Homo sapiens: one gene and its partners. The protein of the gene in region 1 purifies or fractionates together with the protein of each later gene. This does not show direct contact. Each region holds a gene or a part of one and is shown in the gene's direction. Other genes may lie near its edges.

Region 1 (7,174 bases):
CTTTTAGGTTTGCAGTAAAATTAAGGGGAAGGTAAAGAGATATTCCATATACTCCCTGCACCTACATAAGCATAGCGCCCCTCACCCCAACCGCAGTGGCACATTTGTAGCAATTATAAACCTACACTGACACATCATTATCATCCAAAGTCCCTACTTTACTTTAGGGTTCACTCTTAGTGTTGTACATTCTATGTGTTTGGACAAAGGTACAATGACACGTGTCCACTATTAGAGTGTCATCTAAAATAGTAATCCTCTGTGCTCCACAAATTCATCCCTCCTACCCTTCTAAACCCCCAGCAACCACTGATCTTTTTACTCTTTCATACTTTTACCTTTTCTCAAATGTCATTAATTGGAATCATACAGTATATTGCCTTTTCAGATTGGCCTCTTTCATTTAGTGGTATGCATACAAGGTACCTCCATGTTTTTTCACGTCTTGAAGATTCATTTACCTTCAGCATTGAGTAATGTTCCATTGTCTAGATATACTACAGTTTCTTTTCTTTCTTTGTTTCTTTTTTTTTTTGAGACGGAGTCTCGCTCTGTCGCCCAGGCTGGAGTGCAGTGGCGTGATCTCGGCTCACTGCAACCTCCGCCTCCCGGGTTCACGCCACTCTCCTGCCTCAGCCTCCCGAACAGCTGGGACTACAGGTGCCTGCCACCATGCCCAGCTAATTTTTTTTTTTTTTTTTTTTTTTTGTATTTTTAGTAGAGACGGGGGTTTCACCGTGTTAGCCAGGATGGTCTCGATCTCCTGACCTCATGATCCGCCCACCTCGGCCTCCCAAAGTGCTGGGATTACAGACGTGAGCCACCACGCCTGGCGATATACTACAGTTTCTAATCCATTCACTTACTGAGGGACATTTTTGTTGCTTCCAAAGTATGCCAATTTTGGATAAAACTGCTATACACACACATGTACAGGTTTTTGTGTGGACATAAATTTTCCACTCATATGGATAAATTCTGAAAAATATGGTTACCGTATTGTATGGTAAAAGTGTGTTTAGTTTTGTAAGAAACCACCAAACTCCATTTCAAAGTGGCTGTACAACTTTGCATTCCCGTCAGCAATGAGAGCTCCTGTTGCTGTACATTTTCTCAACCATTTGCAGTTGTCAGTGTTACAGAGGTTGTTCATTCTAATAGATGTGTAGTGGTATCTCAGTGCTGTTTTAATTTTTACTTCCCTGATGACATATGATGGGGATTATCTTTTCATACACTTATTTGCCATCTGTGTATCTTCTCTGGTGAGGTATCTAAACCTAAAGTCTTTGCCCATTTCGTTTTTTAATTAAGATGTTTCTTTTTTTTCTTTTTTTTTTTTTTGAGACGGAGTCTCACACTGTCACTAGGCTGGAGTGTCGTGGCATGATCTCGGCTTACTGCAACCTCCACCTCCTGGGTTCAAGCGATTCTCCTGCCTCAGCCTCCCAAGTAGCTGGGACTACAGGCATGCGCCACCACGCCCAGGTAATTTTTGTATTTTTTAGTAGAGACAGGGTTTCACCATGTTGGCCAGGATGGTCTTGATCTCTTGACCTTGTGATCTGCCTGCCTCAGCCTCCCAAAGTGCTGGGATTACAGGCATGAGCCACCAAGCCCGGCCCTGAAAAATTTACACAATTATACAAAACTTACTTAACCTATGCTTCATTACCTCATGAGGAGTACTGGGAAGTTTTGAGTACGTGCAATGGATGGAAACATTGAATTTGGACATAAAGAGTTGTGTCCTTTTTTTTTTTTTTTTTTTGGAGTCTTGCTCTGTCACCCAGGCTGGAGTGCAGTGGTACGATCTCGACTCACTGCAACCTTCACTTCCCAGGTTCAAGTGATTCTGATTCTCCTGCCTCGGCCTCCCGAGTAACTGGGATTACAGGTGCCACCACCACGCCCGACTAATTTTGGAATTTTTAATGGAGACGGGGTTTCACCATGTTGGCCAGGCTGGTCTTGAACTCCTGACCTTAGGTGATTCGCCCACCTCGGCCTCCCAAGGTGGGAGCAGCAATCACACCTGCTGGGATTACAGGTGTGAGCCACTGTGCCCAGCCAGTTATGTCATTTTTCACTAGTTTCTCAGTTGATTACCTGAAAGTATGAATTTTTAAAGCACAATAGGATTCAGCAGTCTCAGGTAGGAAAAAGGTAACCTGGAAAGATCCCTGCATGTGAATGCACACACAGCTTTCAGGGATCTGAGGAAATTCAGCATGTGTAGGATATAGAGGAGATACATGGTAGGAGGTGAAGCAATATGTAATGGTTGGTTCTGTAATATAGGCCCAGCCAAGAACTCTAACCTTTTTCCTAAAAACAATGACAAGCCCATTGTGAGATCTAACCAGATGTACAATAGTAGTCATTCCACTTATAAATTTTTGTAGTAAATGTGTAAACAAATACATTATATATTTGATAAAATCATTTCACAACTTTTAATTTTATTTTATTTTACTGGTATTAATTTGTCCTAAAGGATCATTTTTATTGTGAAACGTAAAATTTGATCTATCTAATATATATAAAATGTATATGTGTACATTTAACAATGTGCATATATGTACCTTAAAATAATATAAACTTTCTGGGCGACGGAGTGAGGCCCTGTTTAAAATAATGATAATAATTTGATATTTTATGCATTAAAAACTTTTGTCTGGGCATGGTGACTCATGCTTGTAATCTCAGCAGTTTGGGAGGCTGAGGCAAGAAGATTGCATGGCCCTAGGAGTTTGAGACTAGCCTGGGCCCTATAGGGAGACTCCATTCCTACAATAATTTTTTTTTTAACTAGCCGGGTGTGGTGGTGTGCTTGTAGTGCCAGCTACTCAAGAGGCTGAGGTGGGAGGATCACTTGAGCCCAGGAAGTGGAGGCTGCAATGAGCTATGATTGTTCCACTGTACTCCAGCCTGGACAACAGAGTGAGACCCTGTCTCAAAAAAAAATTAAATGTTTTGATTATACAAGGAAAATGAACATTCATGTATTAAAGCTTCATGTTTTATGAACAAAACTGACTTTGCAGGCAGGAGAGCGTTTTCTGGGGGCACCAGAAGCAGGGAACTTCCCTTGTCCGTTGGCTTCAGGGCTGCCCACTATCCCTCCACTATCTTCCCATTGTAGCCCTGTCTGGTGTCTTTTGTCCCTGACAAAACCTACAAAAAGTGACTTTAACACTTCAGGCTGCATGCATTTGAAGAGCAATAAGATAACGTTTTTTCGCTTCCCACTACCAGTGGAGATCTGCTGGGGTGGGCTGCATGGAATCTGAAATGATGTCTAAATACTGAAGTGAACCTCTACACTAGAGACTGATATACAGCTGACCCTTAAACGACGCAGGGGTCAGGGATACCGACCCCTGCGGAATTGAAAATGCTTGTATTACTTTTGACTCCCCTAGGTCTTAACTACTAATAGCCAACTGTTGCCCGGAAGCCTTATGAAGTTGCCCGGAAGCCTTATGAATTACATAAACTCCCAGTCGATTAACACATTTTGTATGATATATGCATGATATATGCATAATATATATGATATATGCATTTTGTATGATATATGCATTATATATATTTTAGTATAAGAACTATACTTGTACTAAAACAGACCAGAGAAAGGGTATCAGGAAAATTGTAAGAGGCTCGTTGACATTACACCCAATTAAAAAAAGGAAAATAAAAGAATACGGAAGGGAAAATACATTTACTAATCATTAAGTGGAAGTGGATCATCATAAAGGTCTTCATCCTTGTGTTCTTCATGCTGGGCAAGAGAATGAGGTCTTGCTGTCTCTGGGGCAAGAGGTCGGGGAGCTGGAAGAGGCAGGAAAAGGAGCACACTCGAAGTAACGTTTATTGGGGAAAAAAAACGCCTACGTGTAAATGGACCCGCACAGCTCAAACCTGTGTTGTTCAAGTGTCAACCTACTTAAGACCTCAAACACCGAAGCCCCTCAGTCGCCCTGGAAGGCAGCAGACGCAGCTTCCTAGCGCTCCCAGCTGTCTGCACACAAGGCGCCCTCCGTCGCAGCCTGGGGGAGACTACATTACCCAGAAAGCCTTGCGTCGAGCGGCAGTACTTTGATCCAATGAAAATCCAAGACAGGGGCATTTCCGTGTGGGTCTACCCCCGCCCCCCCCAGGGCGGGACTTGTGGCGTCTTCGCAGCGGTCATTTTGGCTGCCCTCCCGGAGGTCCGTTCTGTCTGTCAGCCGCTTTGGTACGCTGCATCGGGATCGAAGTGACGGACCGTGAAGGCGCGAGAGTCAGGTCTGAGGGTCGGGGGCAGAGCCGCCCGCGAGGCCGGCCTGGGGATAGCGATGCTCGGGTTCCCCCCGGGTCGCCCGCAGCTCCCGGTCCAGCTCCGCCCACAGACTCGGATGGCGACCGCACTGAGGGACCCGGCTTCGGTGAGCGCTGCGATCTCCGGGCCTCCCCCGGCCGAGATTCTTAAGTCCCAAGTGAGAGGCACCAGCTCACGTCTCTGTAGCACAGGGTCGGGGACACTGAGGCTCGTGGGTGGGGCCCCTATTTCTGACATCCGATGTGGTGGGCAGGGGGACAAGGGACAGGACCGGCGCGTGCAGGGCTTGGACGGGCAACCGAGAAGGGGGCATTCAGGAACCTGGGCTCCACATTGTTACTGCAGGGAACAAAGTTTGAGAGAGATCTACCTTTATTCTTAGGGCCGTGGGAGCCATAGAGAGCTTGCGCAAACGAGAGACACCATCTGAGTTAAATTTGAAAAATCCTCTGCAGGCTGTTCAGTGGAAGAAAAGACTTTAGAGATGGATGAGGACGTTGAGGCAGAGGGAGGTTGAATATTTTTCCAAGGCCACACAACTGGTGAGAGGCAGCACTAAGGACCGAGGCGCACAGGTTAGACAGTCGACCCAAAGTTACGTGGCTCTGGGCCGGGGCAAGGGTACAGGGAAGGCCTGTGCCCATGGAGCACTGCCATGATCACATTCCTCTGAGGCCTGCGTCTTTCCACAGGTTCCCATAGCTACAGAGGTGCTTTTCAAACTTACACAGGTAAGTGGAGGTATCTCAGCCCCTCACTGGTCTGGAATGTCCCTCCACCCTCCCCAGACAGATATTTTCTTTAGATTTGTGGTGTCATGGGACTCACCTACCATTCTCTCAGCGTTTGGTTTGGGAACCCTGGAGAATCCCTGAGCTAAGGGCCCTGAGTCCAGGCCAATGTTTCCATTTGGAGCAGCCAATGGAAAGATGGGTGAAAATTTATGATAGAAACAGGTAGGTACCAGCTTTTGGAACTCCTTGGAGGTGAGGCTGAGCTGGTTCAGGGAACTGCAGGTTTCCTTTATTTCTGTGAAGTTTGGCATCTATTGTGAGGAAGTTGGAGTTTGGGATCAGAGGAGGGAGATTTATCTAACCCAAGTGTTGACAGGATACAGAGTGGAAAACAGAATGAACACAGTGACTAATGGGAATGTGAAGAGACAGCAGGGATCAATGACACCAAGGTCTGGTGTCTCTTCTGACTTGGGGATCTTGGGAGGAGAATGTATGGGGACATGGATTTTGAGTCTTCCAAATTGAGACTGTTCATGGTTTCATCAATCCCTATTATGCTAGGGAAGTGTGACCTTTGAAGATGTGGCCGTGTACTTCTCCTGGGAGGAATGGGATCTCCTTGATGAGGCTCAGAAACACCTGTACTTCGATGTGATGCTGGAGAACTTTGCACTTACGTCCTCCCTGGGTAAGGCCCTCATACTCACCCTTGTGCCCTGGACTAGGCTCTCTGTTTCTCCTTTTCCTCAGGAGCAGCTCTGTCCTCATATCTGGACTATAGGCACTGCCTCCTTCCCCAGTTCCCTGGGTAGATGTTGTGGACTGAGTGCAAGCCTACTTCCCTTATCGTCCCAGCCCAAAAGCATCTTGGGTAAGGATTTGGGATCAGTAGTCTTACAGTAAGCCTAATAGATCCCACCTGACTTGCCTTCTCCCTGTCTGGTGACTTTCTAGATCTATGGCACCCAGTTTTCCCTCCCTTCGTGTACCTAACATTTATTTGTGCTAGACTGTGACATGAAATGTAGTCACTGACATTGCCACTATTTACACAGACTGTTCTTCAACCACCAACCTTTCCATTAACAGCAGAACACTCTAACAAATTGTGCCGCAGAGACATTACACAGACTGTTCTTATAGAAACCTCCTTCAAGGTGTTTTTCTTTGTTTTTAATTGTAAAATATATATAACAAAATTTACCATTTTAATCATTTTCAAGTATATAGTTCAGCGCATTTAGTACATTCGCATTATTGTGCAACCATCACCACCATCCTTCTATAGTACTTTTTCATCTTATAAAACTGAAACTTTGTACTCATTAAATAATAACTCTTCCCATCCCCTGGCAACCACCATTTTACTTTTGGTCTGTATGAATTTGTCTACTGTAAGTACCTCATATGAGTGGGATCACACAATATTTGTTCTTTTCTATCTGGCTTACTTCACTTAGCATAATATCTTCAAGATTCATCCATGTTGTAATATATATCAGAATTGCTTCTTTTTAAGGCTGAATAATATTCTTTTGTATGTATTACAGTTTGTTTATCCATTCCTTCATCAGTGGACACAGGTTGTTTTCACCTTCTGGCTGTTGTGAATAATATTACTGTGAACATGGGTGTACAGATACGTATTTGTGTCCTTGCTTTCAATTCTTTTGGGTATTGGCCCAAAAGTAGAATTTCTGGATCATAAGGTAATTATTTTTAATTTTTAAGGAACCACTAAAATTGTTTTTCATAGCAGCTGCACCATTTTACATTCCCACAAGCAGCTGACAAAGGTTCCAGTTTCTTCACACCCTCACCATCACTTGTTATTTTCTGATTTTTTTGATAAGTCATCCAAATTGGTGTGAGGTGATATCTCACTGTGGTTGTGATTTGCAGATTACTGATATTGAGCATCTATTCATGTGCTGATTGGCTATTTGTATATCTTCAAATGATATTGCTTATTCAAGTCCTTTGCCTATTTTTAAATTAGGTTTTATTAATTATAATTAGAAGTATTAAATATAATTTTTTATTGAGCTTTAAGGGTTATCTGTGTGTTCTAGATATTCCCTTATCAGATATGTGATTTGCAAATGTTTTCTCT
Region 2 (7,000 bases), on another chromosome or scaffold:
AGCATGCCCAGCTAATTTTTGTATTTTTGAAGAGACTGGGTTTCACCATGTTGGCCGGGCTGGTCTCGAACTCCTGGCCTCAAGTGATCCACCTGCCTTGGCCTCCCAAAATGCTGGGATTATAGGCGTGAGCTACCACGCCCAGCCTGTCATGAAATTATTCTTCTTTTGAGTTTTTTTTCCCCCAACCATTGAAAAAGAAAAACCCATTTGTAAGCTTATAGGCTGATAGAAAAATGGGCCGGTGGCTGGACTGATGTAGGCTATTGCACTGGCTAGATTGTAATATCTTTCTCAAACAAGGGCAAAGATATGTAGCCAATCTGTTTTGCCCCTAAAGAGCTGATTATGCCCATGAACAACCACTGGAGATGGAGATGGCTGAAGTGCCTGTAGGATCAGTTCTCTGTGGGGCTTCGGTTAGTCTTTTCCAATGTTAAGTACCCACTCTAGAGTGCATGGTTTCACTTGAAAGATTAATGATAGCTAATGAACACACACTGTCTTTGAAATATTTTAAAGTGGATTTCAGAACCAGAGGCTCTTGTTTTATGGAGTTTGGCCTTGTAGGGGGACAGAGCTGGAGAAAGGGGGTTGGGCACCAGGAGAAATCTTCTTTTTTCAATGGGAGAGACTTGAGCATGTTTAATGGCTGATGGGAAGGATGCAGGCGAGAGGGCTGTTCCTATGAGAGAGATGATAAATGGTGGGAAAGGTTCATGGCAGGGCAGCCAGCAGGGCGCCCCAGCCAGCTGCTGGGTGCTTCGTGGGAGGTAAGGCCCGAAGGGTGGCCGAGTGAAGGCGCAGAGCTCAGGGTCCCCCTCTGGGCATGCGTCCCTGGCCTCTGATTCCTGGGGTCTTTCTCCTTTACATGTCCCTTCAACAGCCTCAGGGTTCAGAGTCAAGCTGTTGAACTGGGCAGATGTGATAAACAGAAGGTTCTTGGCTCCCATGTCAAAAGCAGATGGTTTGCCCGCTTGGTGTTTTCCTCCAGGTTCTAAGGTTACCCCTGTGGTCATGAATTGCAGGGAGCTGGCCTGTTCCCTGCGATCATGTGCACCTTGGATTCTGGCCTCAGTGTTTCTGTTTAGCCATAAGAACCTTGGAGAGGGACTTGTGAGATTCCATTTGTTAGATCATGGGCAATTGGCATTTTCTTTTTGCCTTTCGCCCATATTTTGGCCCACCAGAAAATGCTCTGCTCTTCCTTCTCATTGAGGTGATTTGCCTTCTTGCCTTTTGCAAAAAAATAATTGTTTTTTTAAATTAAACACTTAATATAATATTAAATTAAAAGGTTTATTTATAATTCTACTACCCCTGTACAAATTAAAACAAATTTTTATGTTAATTTCCAAATGTAAGCACATACTTTGACATGCTTGCAATTGGTGGGTATATACGCCATTTCTACTTAACTATAACGTTTGTACACATGTATATAATATGTATAATAGGTAGCATGTACTAAGTATTTGTACATTATAGTTTGTACACATGTATATAATATATGTGTAATGGATGTATCATGTGCATAATGGATATATCACATACATGTGTTATACATACATGGATACACATGCATTATGTTTATATGTAATCTTTACTGATAGGTTAATAACTTCATAATACATCTTAATTTGTTAAACCACATTTCTAATGTTGGACATTTAAAACAATTTTTTATTCATGAAGAAGGCAGGGTTTCAACTGGAAGGTCTGAAAAATGTATTATTTCATTCAGGTGCCAGCCTCTGAGATGTAAGGGAATAAAATTTCTCCTAGAAAAACTGCTCATTAAAAAATTCTCATTACGTAATGAGCTTATTTGAAATCAAAACAGTTGTAATAATTGACTTGTGTCCTACAGGTTCACAGAGATGCTGAGTCACAGCTGGTTTTGCAGGAGTGGAAAAAGGAAAGGAAGGAGATGCGGTAAGAGAGGCCTGTATTGAATGTGCGCGTCCACCACCCTGTTCTGGCTGTGCTCAGCCCACATGTGTTCCCCAGGGCCAGCCTGAGGCATAATGTTGAAACATCCTATTTTAGCTCCCAGGTATGTCTGCCTCCCCCAGGATCCAGAATCAGCTACCTGCTGTTGGTAACATGTGACAAATTTCCTTGAGGCCAGCCATCACCCCTGTCATTCCTCCGCCCTTGCCATCGAAGGCCTTTGGAGAACGGAGCCTTCCCATCTCATTCCTCCTTCCTGCCTGCCTGACCTTCCCATCTGGGCAGCTGGTGGGCCAGTTGTTAATAATGCTGGCAGCACCATGTGGCTACTGGGCAGCACTGGATTTGGGCTCTGAACCCTCAATGAATTCTTAGGGCTCCTACGACCCTGGTGCTTATTTGTAACCACAGCTATTTCAAGAATGTGCAATCAGTAAGCAGGATGTTAACTGATAAAGAAAGCCTGCCTGCCATAAGAAAAGTTTGGTGGGTGTCTGTCTTAAGGGAACCCATACTGACAATCATGCTTCCCTAGAAGGATGCTTTATACCACTTGCATGAACTTTTCTGACTTTGTGCATGGCTTTCTTCAGCCGCTGGGTATAGCCGTCTCTGAGCTTTGGAAACAGTGGTTACTGTGGGATTCTGGCCTCTCAGCAGTGGGCAGCCTGACTCCAGGGTTCATGTGGTGGTGTGCGTGGGTGGGTGGATGGGGCATGGAGAGGGGGCAGTGAGTCCATTCCTCAGATTCTGCAGAAGCCAAAGCTGTATTGCATTTAGTTTGTCCTCCTCCCTCTCAGAGTGTTGGCTGTCTGAGTCTTATTCTAACTGCTACCAACTAACTAGTGGCTTTTATCACACAGCTGTGTAAATGATTATATTTTTTGCTGTGTTTGTAAATGACTTATTAGCAGTCAAATAGAATTCATTCATTTTAATGGAATACTCTGTGTGTAGGGTCCCAGCCATCAGAGAGAGTGCACATCCTGTGTTTGTATGATAGGGATGTTGATATAGATATACATGCCCGTAAGGATGACTGCAGGGGGTTATGGGGCTTGGATGGGGTGAACAGCCTCACTTCCGAGGAGGCTGGGAGGCATTGAAGTATGTAATGGTTGGGGGAGATTTACATCACATAAAACAATCTTTAATTCCTCCATCTGAGCACTTGAGAGTTTACAACATGCTTTTATTTTGCTTACCTTACTCAGTTCTCACAATAACCTTGTAAAACGGGGTCTTGATCCTTTCGGTAAGGGAAGTGGAGCCTCCTGAGAGCATTCCGTATTCCTCTGTGTACCATCGGGAGCAGCTGTTGCATCCTGTGTTTAGGTTTGGGAGATGGGGCGTGTGTATTTAGAGAAGCTTGCAAAAGAATCTGGAGCCTTGAGACAGTTAAGGGGGAAATGTGACCAGAGTCGTTTTGATGGATGGATAGGCAGGCTGTTTTCTTTTCTTTTCTTTTCTTTTTTTGAGATAGGGTCTCATTCTGTCACCCAGGCTGGAGTGCAGTGGCACAGTCACAGCTCACTGCAGCCTCAACCACCCAGGCTCAAGTGATTCTCCGACTTCAGCCTCCTGAGTAGCTGGAACTACAGACATATGCCACCATGCCTGGTCAAATTTTTTGCATTTTTGTAGAGACAAGGTCTCACTATGTTGCCCATGCTGGTGGGCCAGGGCGCAAGTGATCCACCTGCCATGCCCAGGCCAGACTGTTTTTTTTGTTTGTTTGTTTTTGTTTTTGTGAGACGGAGTTTCGCTCTGTTGCCCAGGCTGGAGTGCAGTGGCATGATCTCTGCTTACTGCACCCTCTGCCTCCCTGGTTCAAATGATTCTTGTGCCTCAGCCTCCTGTGTAGCTGGGATTACAGGTGTGCGCCACCACGCCTGGCCAATTTTTGTATTTTTAATAGAGACGGGGTTTCACCATGTTGGCCAGGCTGGTCTCGAACTCCTGGCCTCAAGTGATCTGCCTGCCTTGGCCTCCCCAAGTGCTGGGATTACAGATGTGAGCCACCACACCTGGCTCTAGGCTGTTTTCTTAATTAATATTTGGGGCTGCTCTAGGCTAACATGTTTCTCAAATGAGTCCTATTTTTTTTTTTTAAAAAAAGAAGTGATTTTGATTTCAGTAGTTTAAAAACAAGGATTTTTGAATCATTCTCTGTTGCTTTGCTTTTTTATTGCCTCTTCAGAGAAATGACCAAGAGTTTCTTCAATGCCCAGTTTGGAAGCCTGTTCCGCACAGACCAGAACCCAACCTACTTCCTAAGGCGCCTGTCGCGCTTCGCTGACATCTACATGGCGTCTCTGAGCTGCCTCCTGAACTATGACGTCAGCCACACTTTCTACCCCCGGAGGACTCCACTGCAGCACGAACTGCCCGCCTGGTCAGAAAGGCCCCCCACCTTCGGAACCCCTCTCCTGCAGGAGGCCCAGGCCAAGTAGCCAAGGGCAAAAACTAGAAACTGTAACTGCCCCTGATTGGGCAGGCATGATGGGGTTGACTTCATGTGGGTCTGAGTGTTGCTTTTGGAAAAGATACAGATAAGCCTTTTGATATTTATTTTGTACCTTACGGAGAATAATTCTCCCAATGGTTAAGACAGGAGCTAGCAGCCCACCCCTCCAGCCTTTCCCCCCATGCAGGGCTGAAAGGCAAGCTTCACATTGGAACTCTGATTTTGCCTTTTTGTTTACTGAGGTCCTGGAACATCAGGTTTCCTGGGATAGGTGAGACCACTTGATGCCATGTCTGTATTCTAGCAGGTCAAGCTTGAAACGGTTCTTGACTCCTCCATGGAACATTTCCTGAACATTTACGGGCTATGCATTGGGAACTGCAGGGGCACAGTGATGGGCAAAGATTAGCTGCTTCCAGAAGGCTGATTTCGTGGGCTCCACAATGGTAAAACGCTGCTGTGAGTGGCAGAGAGGTTCCCCAGGTGATGGCCAGTTCCCAAATCATTTGGTACTAAGGCTTTGACATTCTGGCACATCACATCAAATAGAACACAGCCTCCCTGGAAGGACTTAAGTGAGAAAGAACAAGAGAAGCTGCAACTCCTGGACCCTTTTGTCCTCAGTGTGTGGTTCCTGCGTCCTTCCCCAGCATGGAGGAGGGCAGGAGAGAGGAGATGAGAGCTCTGGTCAAAACCTGCCAGCTAGTGGAACAGCCTTCTGTAGAGCCTTCTGCAAGAAACGAGTGGGTTTGAAGAACCAAAACATTTGTGGTAGGTCTCCCAGGAGCTTGTTAAACCTGGAAACACCACCTGAGTTGGTTTCATCTGCTCATTGGAAGAAAGAAAATGAACCAGGAAAAAGCATCTTTGTCATGAAATGCTATGCCATGCCACCCACCCAGTTGAATTGGAATCCTGTTAAAACATGAGATTTACCAGAAACAGTCCTTTGTCTAGATGGAAACAAACAAGATCCTGGCTTCTCTCTAATGAGTTACCAACTGAGAGGTGCTTGGATTGGCCAGGGGAGGAGGAAGATGGCCACCACAACTTAGCCATGTCCAGCCTTCTCTTAGATTTCACTCCTGTGATGTTTGTGCGACTATTTGGGAGTTTGTGTAGTTTGTTTTTTTTTTTTTTGTTTTGTTTTGTTTTTTTTTAGATGTCTAAGATGGGAAAGGGCGAAGGACATTGAAGCTAAGGAATAGATATGACCTAGCTAACCAAGCTTTTCTCATTTCCTTCTGTTTTGTTTTGTTGAGATGGAGTTTTGCTCTTATTGCCCAGGCTGGAGTGCAGTGGCACAATCTCAGCTCACTGCAACCTCTGCCTCCCGGGTTCAAGCGATTCTCCTGCCTCAGCCTCCCAAGTAGCTGGGATTACAGGCATGCACTACCACACCCAGCTAATTTTGTATTTCTAGTAGAGATGGGGTTTCTCCATGTTGGTCAGGCTGGTCTCGAACTCCCGACCTCAGATAATCTGCCCGCCTTGGCCTCCCAAATTGCTGGGATTACAGGTGTGAGCCACCGCACCTGGCCTGCTTTTTTCATTTCTTTCTAGGGGCAATGCAAGTGGCATGTATTCCTTTTGTTGGAGGGAAGAATCCTTAATTGCACCTGCATTTGTAGTATCCTTCAATGTAAAGTGCATATTTACTGCACTCTCTGAGTGCTATGGGAATGTCTGCTGTTATTAGTTATGGGGCTGCTAATACTGTTTTAATTGCATATGCTATATCAATACTTCTGTTCAGATTAGCCTAATCTAGTATTGCTAAAACTCATTTTAAGCTTTTGCGGTAACTTGTATATATTCTTAAATCTAAAGGATGGCAGGAACATGAGGGGAGCTTGTGGAGAGTGCTTGCTTATTCAACATTTTTATTGTGATAAATGTATGTAACCATCTATTGATGAAATCCAAGTCTGGCATTCCATGGGCTCCTTGCCAGATGGCAGAAACTTAATGAGTTATATAGCATCCTTTGTAATGCTGCTTGTTATAGTTGGAATGTACTTGTGATATTTGGCTGTATTTAACTATAATGGTGAAGGTGACCCTTTAGATCCAATAAGGCTTCTCCCCATCTTCTACATTTTGTTATGAACACAGTAAGGCACAGTAGTATGTTCTTTTTTTGGAACAGGGTAGGCATTTTGTTTATTGTTTGCTTGCTTCTAGGTGTTTTCGCCATCAGGGTGTATTGGAGGCTGACACTTAATGGGTGTGTGTTGCGCCCAGAACTGCTCGGTGTCGGGGTTCTAAAAGAATGCGCTGGTGTTCTTGGCTTCAAGTTTCTGCTTTGGAGAAGCAGATTCAGGAAGTAGGTGTTGCTTAAAAATAATTCTTGGTTTTTATCTAATCAGATATTCATTGATTACCTACCAGGTGCCAGTTATAGGGTGTTTTGTTTACTCAAGAATGAAGTAGAACTATTTTTAAAACCTGTTTCCATGAGTGTTCACGTTAGGTGACCTAAGCTTTGAAGGAGAAAAACATTTTTGGGTATGAATAATGAGTTTTGTAATCAATTCCCAGTTAGAAGAATTTCAGTCTCTGGGCCATTGAGCTTGGCAG
Region 3 (3,975 bases), on another chromosome or scaffold:
ATACAAAAATGAAAGCAGTGGCTGGGCGTGTGGTTCATGCTTATAATGCCAGCACTTGGGGAGACAGGCGGGAGGATCGTTTGAGCCCAGGAGTTCAAAACCAGCCTGGGCAACATAGCAAGACTCCATCTCTATTAAAATATATATATATTTTTTTAATTGTTGAAAGTATAGTATGAATGAAAAATACAGCGATTTAACAGTTGTGACATTTGCAGTGTTTGTTTTTTCTACTTCTTTTTTCCCATTGATCCATAATAAAGTCAATTGTAAACATGGCAATTTATTTTCAATATCACAGCATATTCCTCAAAGTTGGTACAATACCATTGTAGCATCTAAGAAAATAAACAGTAATTTTCAGACATTATCATATATTATTCATATCCAGATTTCTCTCATTTGTCCCCTTAATGTCTTTTATAGCTTTCCTTAAAACACTAGGGTCCAAAGTTCACACACAGCATTTTATTGTATTCTGTCTTTAGTATCTTCAAGTTTAAAAGAATCTCCTTATTCTTTTCCTTCTTTTCTCTTCTCCCTGCATTCTTCCTAACATAGTATCAGTTTATATAGTAATTTATGAAGTGTCAATTTGGATTTTATGGGCTATTTTCAAGTCTGTGGATGAGCTTGGAAGCAAGGATGTCAGTGAACTGACATCCCTAAGAGTTGATGTACTATTTTGTGTTCCTGTGGATATATGTGTTTTGTTTTGTTTTTTGTTTTTTTAACAGAGAAAAGAAGAGTGGATGAAAGTACTCATAATTTTAGATTATAGCTGAGGTGTATATTTGTGAGAGAGGGGAGGAGGAGAGAAGTGGTTAGTTTTGCTACATTTCAGCCACATCTAATTTATAAAATTATTCATAGTTACAGATCTATCACAGATCAGCAAATATTTGAATTGCCACCTGTGCTGTTGTCACTAACTAGTAAATTAATCAACTCATCTCAAAATATTCTCAGTGCTAAATTGAATTAATCAGGGATGGCTAGATTATCTGCCACTGTGACACAAAGAGATTTAGAAAATCTCAAATAATTCCTGTAAGTGCTTATACTGGGGCCTCATTTAATTAAAATATAGGGCAAACATTGGATAAACCAGGTAATTTAAAGTGGCTAATTTAATCATCAGCTGGTATGCTGTGCTCAGAATGTTGTTTATATGTATACAGTGTGGGTCTGAGTCAGTGATTATATCTTTAGATGAAAAATAAGAATATAGATTGGTTTTCGTTGGTTTAGGTTTGGGTTTGTTATCCTTGTTTTCCCTACTCCATTTCTTACATAAATGTTTTTTATTTAGCAAATGTGAGAAGTTAAGTACCATGAATTAGATACGATCCAGTGTATTACCGTGTATTTTTATATAGCTTTATAAAATTGGAAAAATAACCTTAGATTGCTATGTTGGCAATATGAACAAGAACATAGAGGAAATAGCCCTAATCTAAGTAGAGCTTAGGAAAGTTTTTAACAGGGGTGAGTGACACTGAAGCAAACTAGCCCTTGAAAGATGAGTAAGAATTCACCAAAGAAAAAAAATAATTGAGACAATTTTTTTTTAAGTAAAATATTTTTATAAAGCTTTTAATGCTACTTTCTGACCTACAGGTGATGAAGGGAGTATGCCAGCAGATATAGCCACATTACTAAAAACATCAATGGGCCTGTGAAATAAGAACTGTGAACTCTCAATTGATGAGGAAATATCAACTTGGTGCACTCAAGGACATTTACATTATGATGACCATGGGGTTTATGAACATTTATAACTTTTTATAATTTCCATATTACATTTCTCATAGTATGGACAACTTTTTGCCACTAACTGAATTCTCCAAATACTCACACGTGAAATTTCAAAAAAGAAGCCACAAATATGTAGTTCTGAAGATGTTGAATAATCATTTTACAAAGCAGTTTTCTGAATGGGGATTAGTTGGTGATTGTTTGTAACAAATATGCTAATGCTTTAGAAATGTCAGTATTTTTGTAATTATTTCTACCTCCAAATATATATATATTGTCTTTCACTGGATAATGTGTGTAGATTTTTACATGTGCCTTATTTGACAATGCTTATGTCTTGTTTTTGCTTGTCTCATTTGAAGTTCTTTTTTATTATGTTAAAGAATGCAGCTGTATAGATTATATAGCTTTCATTTTATTGCTATTTGAAGCAGATGTTCACCAATGTCAGCAAGAACTCAACCTGAATTTAAAGGTGGCATTCCATATACTAACATCCCCCAGGTCCTCTCAAGTACTTCTGCTGAAACAAATTTATTTGGCTAGGCACTAAGTTGTTTTCCAGTGAATAGTAACTAAAGAAGCCCCTACCTTGCTCCATGGATTAATTCCTTCTGTTCATTTTCCAACTGCACTAATTGTGCATATTACTCTGCCTAATCTTGTGCATGTTTTCATTGATTTCCCTCTCCCGGCTTTTGCTTCTCTTGAAACTGTTGCCCAGTCACTTCTGCTCCAATTCTCTTCCTCTCTAAATAGTAGTTTATTACTGCCACATCTCCATGCATCAGCAAAATGTTGGTGACATTTTTCTAGCCTGGCAGAACAGATTACTTAAAGCTATTTCATTTCAAAGCAGACTGAATGTGACTTCATCTAAAGGCAGCATTAGGTACTGCATGGAAATAGGTCATTAACTTGAAACTCTTATCAAAATATATTTTACCAGTTTCCAGAATTTCCAGTACAGGACCGCCTGAAGAGAGAGCCATTGTTCAATTCCAATTCAGTGTGAGTGACAAAGTGAAATTTAGAAGTGAAGTTGTCTATTTGATATTTAACTCTTTATTAAATCTTTCTTTAAATTTCTGCCTGTCAGTCTATATTGCTGTTTTTATTATACATCAGTTTCTTTGTATAACTTGTGAGTTCCATGTGTTTTGTTTTTATTATGTAAATATCATTATAAATAAACTTATTTATAAATCAAAGATTTGTTAATTTTTGGAAATCATGCTTTTCAAAGCATCCTAACTTGCTAAGATGCTAGGTAGTACGACCCTCTGGATTTGGAAGGCAAATAAAACTCTTACAGTGATTATTTAGATATTAAAGACTGAGAACTCACGGCTTAACCCCAGTCTTGATGGTATATTGAACAGACTGAATATATTTTACCATTACAGGGCTAAAAGGAGTCTTCATGTGTTAATACTACCTCCTTGTACATCACTATACCCAAATCAGTTATTCAAATTGTTAGGAATTTTACCTTTTAAAATCTCATAATGGATATCTCATGTTTTCTGTATTAATGTATTTTCAATGATAGGCTGTTTCTTTTTTTGTTGTTATTGTTGTTGTTGTTATATCCATACTTTTATCTCTAATGAAATGTAGTTGGGTTCTTCCTGTAATGCGCTATTATGTCTTGGGCTTAATAAAAATATTTGTGATCATAAGTTGTATTTTCACACCCTTTTTAATAGTTTCTAACCCTTCCTCCTCCTACCCTTAAAATCATATAATATTGGGCACAAATGAGATTATCTTATGTGCTTAATATTGCCTGTTTGCCAGTAAATTGGAACTTACTACTTAGGATGTATTCTCATTGGTTCCTTCATTGGACTGATGTCAGTAAATACTGTAACCCATTATCACTACAGAGCAAATGAAGCGAGAGTTGGAGTAATATCTTGACCAACTGAAGCATTTTTTAAATGCAAGCTACACAAAGAAGACATGCCTTATGCATTTTTATAACTGTTTGGGACCCCCATAGAGTTTTAACTTTATGCCAGTAGATACTTACTTTGAAACATTACTGTAGTTCCTAACAGTTGGCATTATCGTGTAGTGGAGAGACGGGGTATGAGGAGATTTGGTTTCCATTTGTGTGACCTTACGTGTGATACTTCACAGTCCATAAATTTAAGGAATTCGGATTGTTTTAACTCTTACCAAAAATGTATTTTTGAAATTATAAATTCAATA
Region 4 (7,403 bases), on another chromosome or scaffold:
CAGGGTGAATGTTAGTTTGTGATAAAGTGCTCTGCTGTTCATTTGAGTTGTGGCAAATAATTTAACTGTCATAACTGGTCTTCAAAATGTTGATCAACAGTTATACACACTTGGCCGGGCGCGGTGGCTCACGCCTGTAATCACAGCACTTTAGGAGGCCGAGGCGGGCGGATCACCTGAGGGTGGGAGTTCGAGACCAGCCTGACCAACATGGAGAAACCCCATCTCTACTAAAAATACAAAAAAGTAGACAGGTGTGGTGGTGGCACCTGTAGTCCCAGCTACTCAGGAGGCTGAGGCAGGAGAATGGCCTGAACCCGGGAGGCGGAGCTGGCAGTGAGCGGAGATCACTCCACTGCACTCCAGCCTGGGCAAAAAAAGCGAGACTCAAAAAAAAAAAAAAAAAAAAAAAAGAGTATCTGTAATCAGTAGTTAGAAATGTGTTTGGTTACAAGTAACGAAAATCTGAAGAATGGCTTAAAGAAAAAGAACTTTTTTGAGGAGTCTTGCTCTGTCATCCAGGCTGGAGTGCAGTGGCAACTGCAGCTCACTGCAACCTCTGCCTCCCGGGTTCAAGGGATTCTCCTGCCTCAGCCTTCTGAGTGGCTGGGATTACAGGTGCCCTCCACCACAACCGGCTTTTTTTTTTTTTTGAGACGGAGTCTTGCTCTGTCGCCGAGGCTGGAGTGCACTGGTGCGATCTTGGCTCACTGCAACTTCTGCCTCCTGGGTTCAAGCAATTCTCTTGCCTCAGCCTCCCAAGTAGTTGGGACTATAGGCATGCGCCATCAAACCCGGCTAATTTTTGTATTTTTAGTAGAGACGAGGCTTCACTACGTTGGCCAGGCTGGTCTTGAACTCCTGACCTTGTGTTCTGCCCACCTCCCCCTCCCAAAGTGCTGGGAGTACAGGCGTGAGCCATTGCGCCCAGCCTAATTTTTGTATTTTTAGTAGAGATGGGTTTCATTACGTTGGCCAGGCCGGTCTCTAACTCCTGTCCTCAAGTGATCTGCCCTCCTTAGCCTCTCAAAGTTCTGGGAATACAGGTGTAGGCCACCATGCCCAGCCAAGAAAAATACATTTTATTTTTCTCACATAAGCAGTCTGAGCATAGACTGTTGTTCAAAGATGCATCAGGGATCCACACTTTATGATTCTGTTTTATCATTTTTTTTCGAGATGGAATTTTTTTTGCTCTTGTTGCCCAGGCTGGAGTGCAATGGCAGAATCTCGGCTCACTGCAACCTCCACCCCCGGGTTCAAGCAATTCTCCAGCCTCAGCCTCCCGAGTAGCTGGGATTACAAAGTGCCCGCCACCACACCCGGCTCATTTTTTATATTTTTAGAAGAGATGGGGTTTCAGCATGTAGGTAAGGCTGGTCTTGAACTCTGACCTCAGGTGATCCACCTGCCTCAGCCTCCCAAAGTGTTGGGATTACAGGCGTGAGCCACTGTGCCCGGCCTGTTTAATCAAATTTTTTAAACAATGAAATCGCAAATGGGGTAAAAGTTTTCATTGTTAAAAAAATTACAAGATGGGTATTACTTTGTGCATCAAGACCATGTTTCAGGCAGAAAGGGTTAAATGGTATGTTAGCTGAATTTGTCCCTCATCGTATTAGGAATTCTTTTGGGAATTCTTCCCAAAGAACCCATCCTGCAGATTTCTGCTTACATTTCTTTTTTTTTCCAGAGAGGGTCTCACTCTGTCACCCAGGCTAGACTGCAGTGGTATGACCACAGCTCACTGCAGTCTCAATCTCCTGGGCTCTAGTGATCCTCCCACCTCAGCCTCCCCAGTAGCTGGGATTACAGGTGTGCACCACCACATTCCACTAATTTTCTTATGTACTGGAGATGGACTTTTGCCATGTTGCCCAGGTTGATGTAGAACTCCCAGGCTCAAGCAATCCATCTGCCTTGGACTCTCAAAGTACTATGATTATAGTCGTGAGCCACCACGACCAGGTAATTTTTTTTTTTTTTTTTTGAGACGGAGTCTTGCTGTGTCGCCCAGGCTGGAGTGCAGTGGCGCGATCTCAGCTCACTGCAAGCTTTGCTCCCTGGGTTCATGCCATTCTCCTGCCTCAGCCTCCCAAGTAGCTGGGACTACAGGCGCCCACCACCATGCCTGGCTAATTTTTTGTATTTTTAGTAGAGACGGGGTTTCACCGTGTTAGCCAGGATGGTCTCAATCTCCTGATTTAGTGATCTTCTCGCCTCGGCCTCCCAAAGCGCTGGGATTACAGGCATGAACCACCATGCCTGGCCTTTTTTTTTTTTTTTTTTTATGAGACGGAGTTTCACTCTTATCCCAGGCTGGAGTGCAATGGCGCGATCTCGGCTCACCGCAACCCCTGCCTCCCGGGTTCAAGCGATTCTCCTGCCTCAGCCTCCTGAGTAGCTGGGATTACAGGCATGCACCACCATGCCTAATTTTGTATTTTTAGCAGAGATGAGCTTTGTCCATGTTGGTCAGGCCGGTCTAGAGCTCCCGACCTCAGGTGATTTGCTCACCTCAGCCTCCCTAAGTGCGGGATTTCAGGAGTGAGCCAACGCGCCCAGCCACCTTTTAAATTTTTGTAGACACAGGGCTCCCACTATGTTTCTCAGGATTGTTGCTTACCTTTTATCAGGAGGAACTCAATTATGTATGGCCAGCCCTAGAAAAGCCAGATCACCATGATGGTTGGTTTCAACTGCTACCTGAAAAAACGTGAGACCAGCACGTTGGCTCATACCTGTAATCCTAACATTTTGGGCCGGAGGATCAGTTGAGGCCAGGAGTTTGAGACCAGCCTGGGTAACATAGCAAGACCCTGTCCCTACTAAAAATAAAAAACAATTAGTTACGTGTGGTGGAGAGCGCCTGTAGCCCCAGCTACTAGGGAAGTGGGAGGATCCCTTGAGCCCATAAAGTGGAGGCTGTAGTGAACTGTGATCGCACCACTGCACTCTAACCTTGGCGACAGAGTGAGACTTTGTCTCAAAAAAAAAAAATTCAAATAAAAATAATTGGGGTTGTGTTGGCAGGGAAAAAAGGGATACGTGGGAATGTATGTTGAGTGGACAACGAATGTCTGCCTCAGGATCCAAAGTAAGTCTGCAAAAACCCAATTCTGTGAGAAAGACAAGGAAGAAGGGAAGATGATGGTAGAATAGAACTACAATCCTAAGGATCACCTGCTAGTGGGAAACAAAACGGGTTGGGCAGACTGTTTATAGTATCAACTTCAAGCAGCAGAAAGGCAAAGCATTTGGAACCAGGTGGTTCTGGCATGGAGAGATGGGCGTGCCATAACCTCCACAAAAGCTATCGAGAGAATGACTACAGAGCCTTGACAGACACTCTGGTTACCGTTCAGAGATTCTGTACACGATCTTTCGGACTTTGCAGTCACATGTCTATGTAAACACGTTGAACACAAAAATTAGCAAGCAAGGGGTAAGTGCCGGCGTGAGGAAAATTCCCTTACAAGCTTCAGCTGACTGCCCCCTTCACCTGTTCTTTATCTTAATATCCTTGTTATTCGCTCTCTGCTGAAGAAGATTTCTTGCTATTTCAGGTGGGGCTGATGGGCACATCGTGAGGGGCCCTCTTCCGTAAAAACGAGACGATGTCAGGCAAACACTCCTTACCCTGCCATTTCTAGTTACGTCAAGGATCTTACTGCTCCAGGACGGAGGACCTTCAAGGAACTGCAGGGTAGCGATAATCACCGATGCAGTTAAGCCGGGCCCTGGGCTGATTCACTCTCAGACCCCGGGGGGAGTGGCCCTTGCGCCCGAAAGAGGGCTACGGCGTAGACCCGGCCCGGCACCCAAGTTGACTCCTTGCTTCCCGTACCCCAAAAGCCTAAGCGCGGAAGAGGCCGGGGACACCAAAGAAACCCGCACCAACTCCCCGACCCAGGCCCTGGGGAAAAATGGCGAAGCCCAGGGGCGGGGGACAGGACGGAGCGAGTGACCTGGCGCTCCCCGGGCCTCAGAGCCCGTGGAGTGGGTCGTGGTGGGCGACGCCACGCAACCGCGACCCGTCCGTTGCCTCCGCCATCTTCTCCTACTCACCCGGACTCCCCCCGCGGCCGCGCTGGCTTCGCGTTTCCCTTCCGGCCGCTGACAGAGATCCGGGCTGGGCGGGGTGGGCGAGCGCGCGGAGGGGGTGGACCGAGGGCGGGGAGGCCGGACGGAAGAGGAAAGGGAGGGCGGCGAGCCGGCCACGGCGGGGTGTGGAGCGTGCGGCGTGTGTGCGGAGGGAGAGGTGGGGGGCGGAGGAGAGGCGAGAAAGGGAGGGAGGCGGAGGAATGAGAGCGCGAGGCGCCTCTCGTCCGCTCCTAAGCCCGGGCGGAAAGAGCCGAGCGCAGCCCGAGCGCTCTGTTAAAATGGCGGCGGCGTCGGCGGTGGCCGCGGCGTCTGGTCGGTGAAGTGACTCTGCTGCTTCTCTCCCCACCCGCCCCCTCCCCCCCTCTCCCCTCCCCCCGTCCTTCCCCCCCTTCCCCGCCGCCGGCGCCTCGGCGCCCCTCCGGCCTGCGCACCTCCCCTCGCTCCCCTCCTCTCCCCCTCCCGCTGCGGGGACCGCCGGCCCCCTCCCCCATTCTCTTGCTCCCCGCCCCGTCCCCGCCGCCGCCCGCCCTAGTCGCCTCCCCGCCCCGCCGGCCGGCCGGCCCCCTCCTCCGCCTCTCTCCCCTCCCCCCCGCCGGTCGGGATCAGTCAGTGTGATCCGAAGCGGGGGAGGGGGGGGGCGGCGGCCGAACGATGTGCGAGAACTGCGCAGACCTGGTGGAGGTGTTAAATGAAAGTAAGTAGCCGCGGTAGCGGCCTGTCGGGGTGCACGGTTTGGGGTCCTCGCGCAGCTCTCTGGCCTCCCCGGGCTGCCGCGGCCTGCGGGAGGCGACGGCCGGGCCGGGCGGCGTGCGGGCCTAGCGCCCCGGGAAGGTGCGCGGTGGCGCGGCCGCCGCGGCGCCTCGGGCCCAGCCCGGCCGGGTTACCTGGGCGCCCGAGAGGCGGCCGCCGCGGAGCTCCGGCTCGGCCTGGCCCGGGCGCTCTGGGCTCTCGGAAAGTTTCCTCATTACAGGTGTCAATTAATGAAGGCAGTAATGAACCCCTCGCCGCCTTCGCCTCCTTCGCCCTGCCGGGAAGGTGCGGGGAGGTGGGGTCGGAGGACGAGGCTTTCCTCCGCAGTCCAAATCCTCCGGCCGCCCTCTTTGATTTCCAGCGTGCTGCCGAGGCCTCTCTTACCTGCTAATTTTCATTAAACTCCCGGGAGCAGGGTGGTGGTTTTTCCCTCCCTTGCGGGTTTGTGGGTGTCTTAAACACTTCAGCCAGACCTTAAATAGCTGAAAACGAACTGTGATAGTGATGATTGGAACCTTCATACCTATTTTTAAAATAAATTTGTTAATGATGTTTCTTAGTGTAGCATTCACCGCTTTAATGGTACATTCTGTTAAGCAGAGCACTGTACTACACATACCATCCCGGGATAGTTATGGCCTATCTCTCTTGGAAGGAAAGGCCTTTTACCTGGTACTTTACTTTTTATTATTAAAAAGGGTACGTTGATCTTTTCTGGCCTTTTTATTTTATTCTCGACCCTTGCAAGATGGTATTTCAGCTTATAGAAGATATATTGCAAATCAACTACTTCTGGGCGTAAAGGCCTAGTTGGCAGAGGTGAATTAGATGAAGGGATCAATTTACAAAAAGTTGATTGTTGAAAAAATGCTCACTTATGAACAGTTTATGTGGGTTTTGGATTTGTATTCTGTTTGTGATATTTCCACAGACTTTCAGACTATCTAATTTTGTAATACAATTCGCTAAAACAGTTGATTTATAAAATGTACCATGGTATTTGTGTTTGACTGTCACTTTAATGACCAAAGACAATAATAAAAGTGGAAGGGTTCTAACTTAATTTCAACTCCGTATTTACTTCCTGATAGGTGGAATAGGCTTTTGCACATATTCCAACTAGAGGTTCCAGTATTTGTGTCACCCTAAATTATCCTAGAATTTTAAGATTATTTGTGTGTATTTTGAGATACTTTTATTTCTGGCGCAGGCGGTTTACGATATGATAAACTTAAATCCTCAATACTTACTGTGTTTTATATCTCACATACAAGTCGTGTGATTATGATTGTTACGCTCAACTTGGAAAGTTAATCGTTTTGCAATGTAATATGAGGAACAAGTACTTAATTTTGTTGGTGATTTTAAATATCTTTTTTTTTTCTTGAGACAGAGTTTTGCTCTTGTTGCCCAAGCTGGAGGGCAATGGCATGATCTCGGCTCACTGCAAACTCTGCCTCCCAGGTTCAAGCGATTCTCCTGCCTCAGCCTCCCAAGTAGCTGGAAATGTAGGTTCCCCACACCATGCCCGGCTGATTTTTGTATTTTTGGTAGAGACGGGGTTTCACCATGTTGGTCAGGCTGGTCTTGAGCTCCTGACCTTGTGATCCGCCTGCCTCGGCCTCCCAAAGTGCTGGGATTACAGGCGTGAGCCACTGCGCCTGGCTGATTTTAAAATATCTTAAACTTGGAAAATTTTAAACAAAACATCTAAAGAAAGTAAAGTTGGTTTATCTTTTGAAAAGAGGTGGCATCTTGATCATAATGAAAGGTCTTATTTAAGATTATCTGGGAAACCCCTAGAACTTTGGTTAGAAGCACTGAAAAATGCAGTGCATTTATGGAGTGTTAGAAATGTGGAGAATTGAAATAGAATTTAGCTTTTATTACCTTTAAGCAAATACAGTTAGTTCAACCAGCTTCTCAAAATCTGGTCATGTGCACCCTCTAAGAAACCTGTTCTAATGAACAAGTAAGGATTTTCTATTTGTGTGTAAGCCAGTGGACTCTAAAAATACTTAGTTTCTTAATATTGCCTTTGAGGCTCAATTTAAAAGTTTAACTCTTAAACAATAATCTCACAGTGATGCTTCCTTTTTAAAAAAATTTACGGCCAGGCGCAGTGGCTCACGCCTGTAATCCCAACACTTTGCGAGGCCAAGGTTGGCGGATCACCTGAGGTTGGGAGTTCAAGACCAGCCTGACTAACATGGAGAAACCCCGTCTCTACTCAAAATACAAAATTAGCTGAGCGTGGTGGCACATGCTTGTAATCCCAGCTACTGGGGAGGCTGACCAGGAGAATTGCTTGAACCCGGAGGCGGAGGTTGCAGTGAGCCGAGATTGTGCCATTGCACTCCAGCCTGGGCAACAAGAGCGAAACTTTGTCTCAAAAAACATTTTTTTTACTTCAACAATTACATGTGTAGTTTATACCACACTATTAAAAGTTGTTTTTTTTTCTGTAGTTCTTTGCTTATCCGTGGCTATGATGGAGCATGATAATGAACATGAGTGGTTGGAGCTTGATAAAACTTGTTGAAGTAGAT

What was found.
Region 2: the proteins of ZNF211 (region 1) and NT5DC3 purify together in Homo sapiens (affinity purification with mass spectrometry; 2 studies listed by BioGRID and IntAct, with this or other methods). This does not show direct contact.
Region 3: the proteins of ZNF211 (region 1) and SMARCAD1 purify together in Homo sapiens (co-immunoprecipitation; 3 studies listed by BioGRID and IntAct, with this or other methods). This does not show direct contact.
Region 4: the proteins of ZNF211 (region 1) and USP34 purify together in Homo sapiens (co-immunoprecipitation; 2 studies listed by BioGRID and IntAct, with this or other methods). This does not show direct contact.

What each region holds. Positions count from the first base shown.
Region 1 is NC_000019.10:57,629,007-57,636,180, forward strand, and holds the start of ZNF211 (zinc finger protein 211), read left to right. Parts: upstream 1-4,161; 5' UTR 4,162-4,340; coding exon 4,341-4,430; intron 4,431-4,706; exon of another isoform or gene 4,707-4,899; intron 4,900-5,016; coding exon 5,017-5,055; intron 5,056-5,622; coding exon 5,623-5,749; intron 5,750-5,811; coding exon of another isoform or gene 5,812-5,932; intron 5,933-7,174.
Region 2 is NC_000012.12:103,775,235-103,782,234, reverse strand, and holds part of NT5DC3 (5'-nucleotidase domain-containing protein 3), read left to right. Parts: intron 1-1,870; coding exon 1,871-1,935; intron 1,936-4,153; coding exon 4,154-4,406; 3' UTR 4,407-7,000.
Region 3 is NC_000004.12:94,287,853-94,291,827, forward strand, and holds the end of SMARCAD1 (SWI/SNF-related matrix-associated actin-dependent regulator of chromatin subfamily A containing DEAD/H box 1), read left to right. Parts: intron 1-1,620; coding exon 1,621-1,682; 3' UTR 1,683-3,440; downstream 3,441-3,975. UniProt on the Homo sapiens protein: DNA helicase that possesses intrinsic ATP-dependent nucleosome-remodeling activity and is both required for DNA repair and heterochromatin organization.
Region 4 is NC_000002.12:61,468,045-61,475,447, reverse strand, and holds the start of USP34 (ubiquitin carboxyl-terminal hydrolase 34), read left to right. Parts: upstream 1-4,360; 5' UTR 4,361-4,755; coding exon 4,756-4,798; intron 4,799-7,403. UniProt on the Homo sapiens protein: Ubiquitin hydrolase that can remove conjugated ubiquitin from AXIN1 and AXIN2, thereby acting as a regulator of Wnt signaling pathway.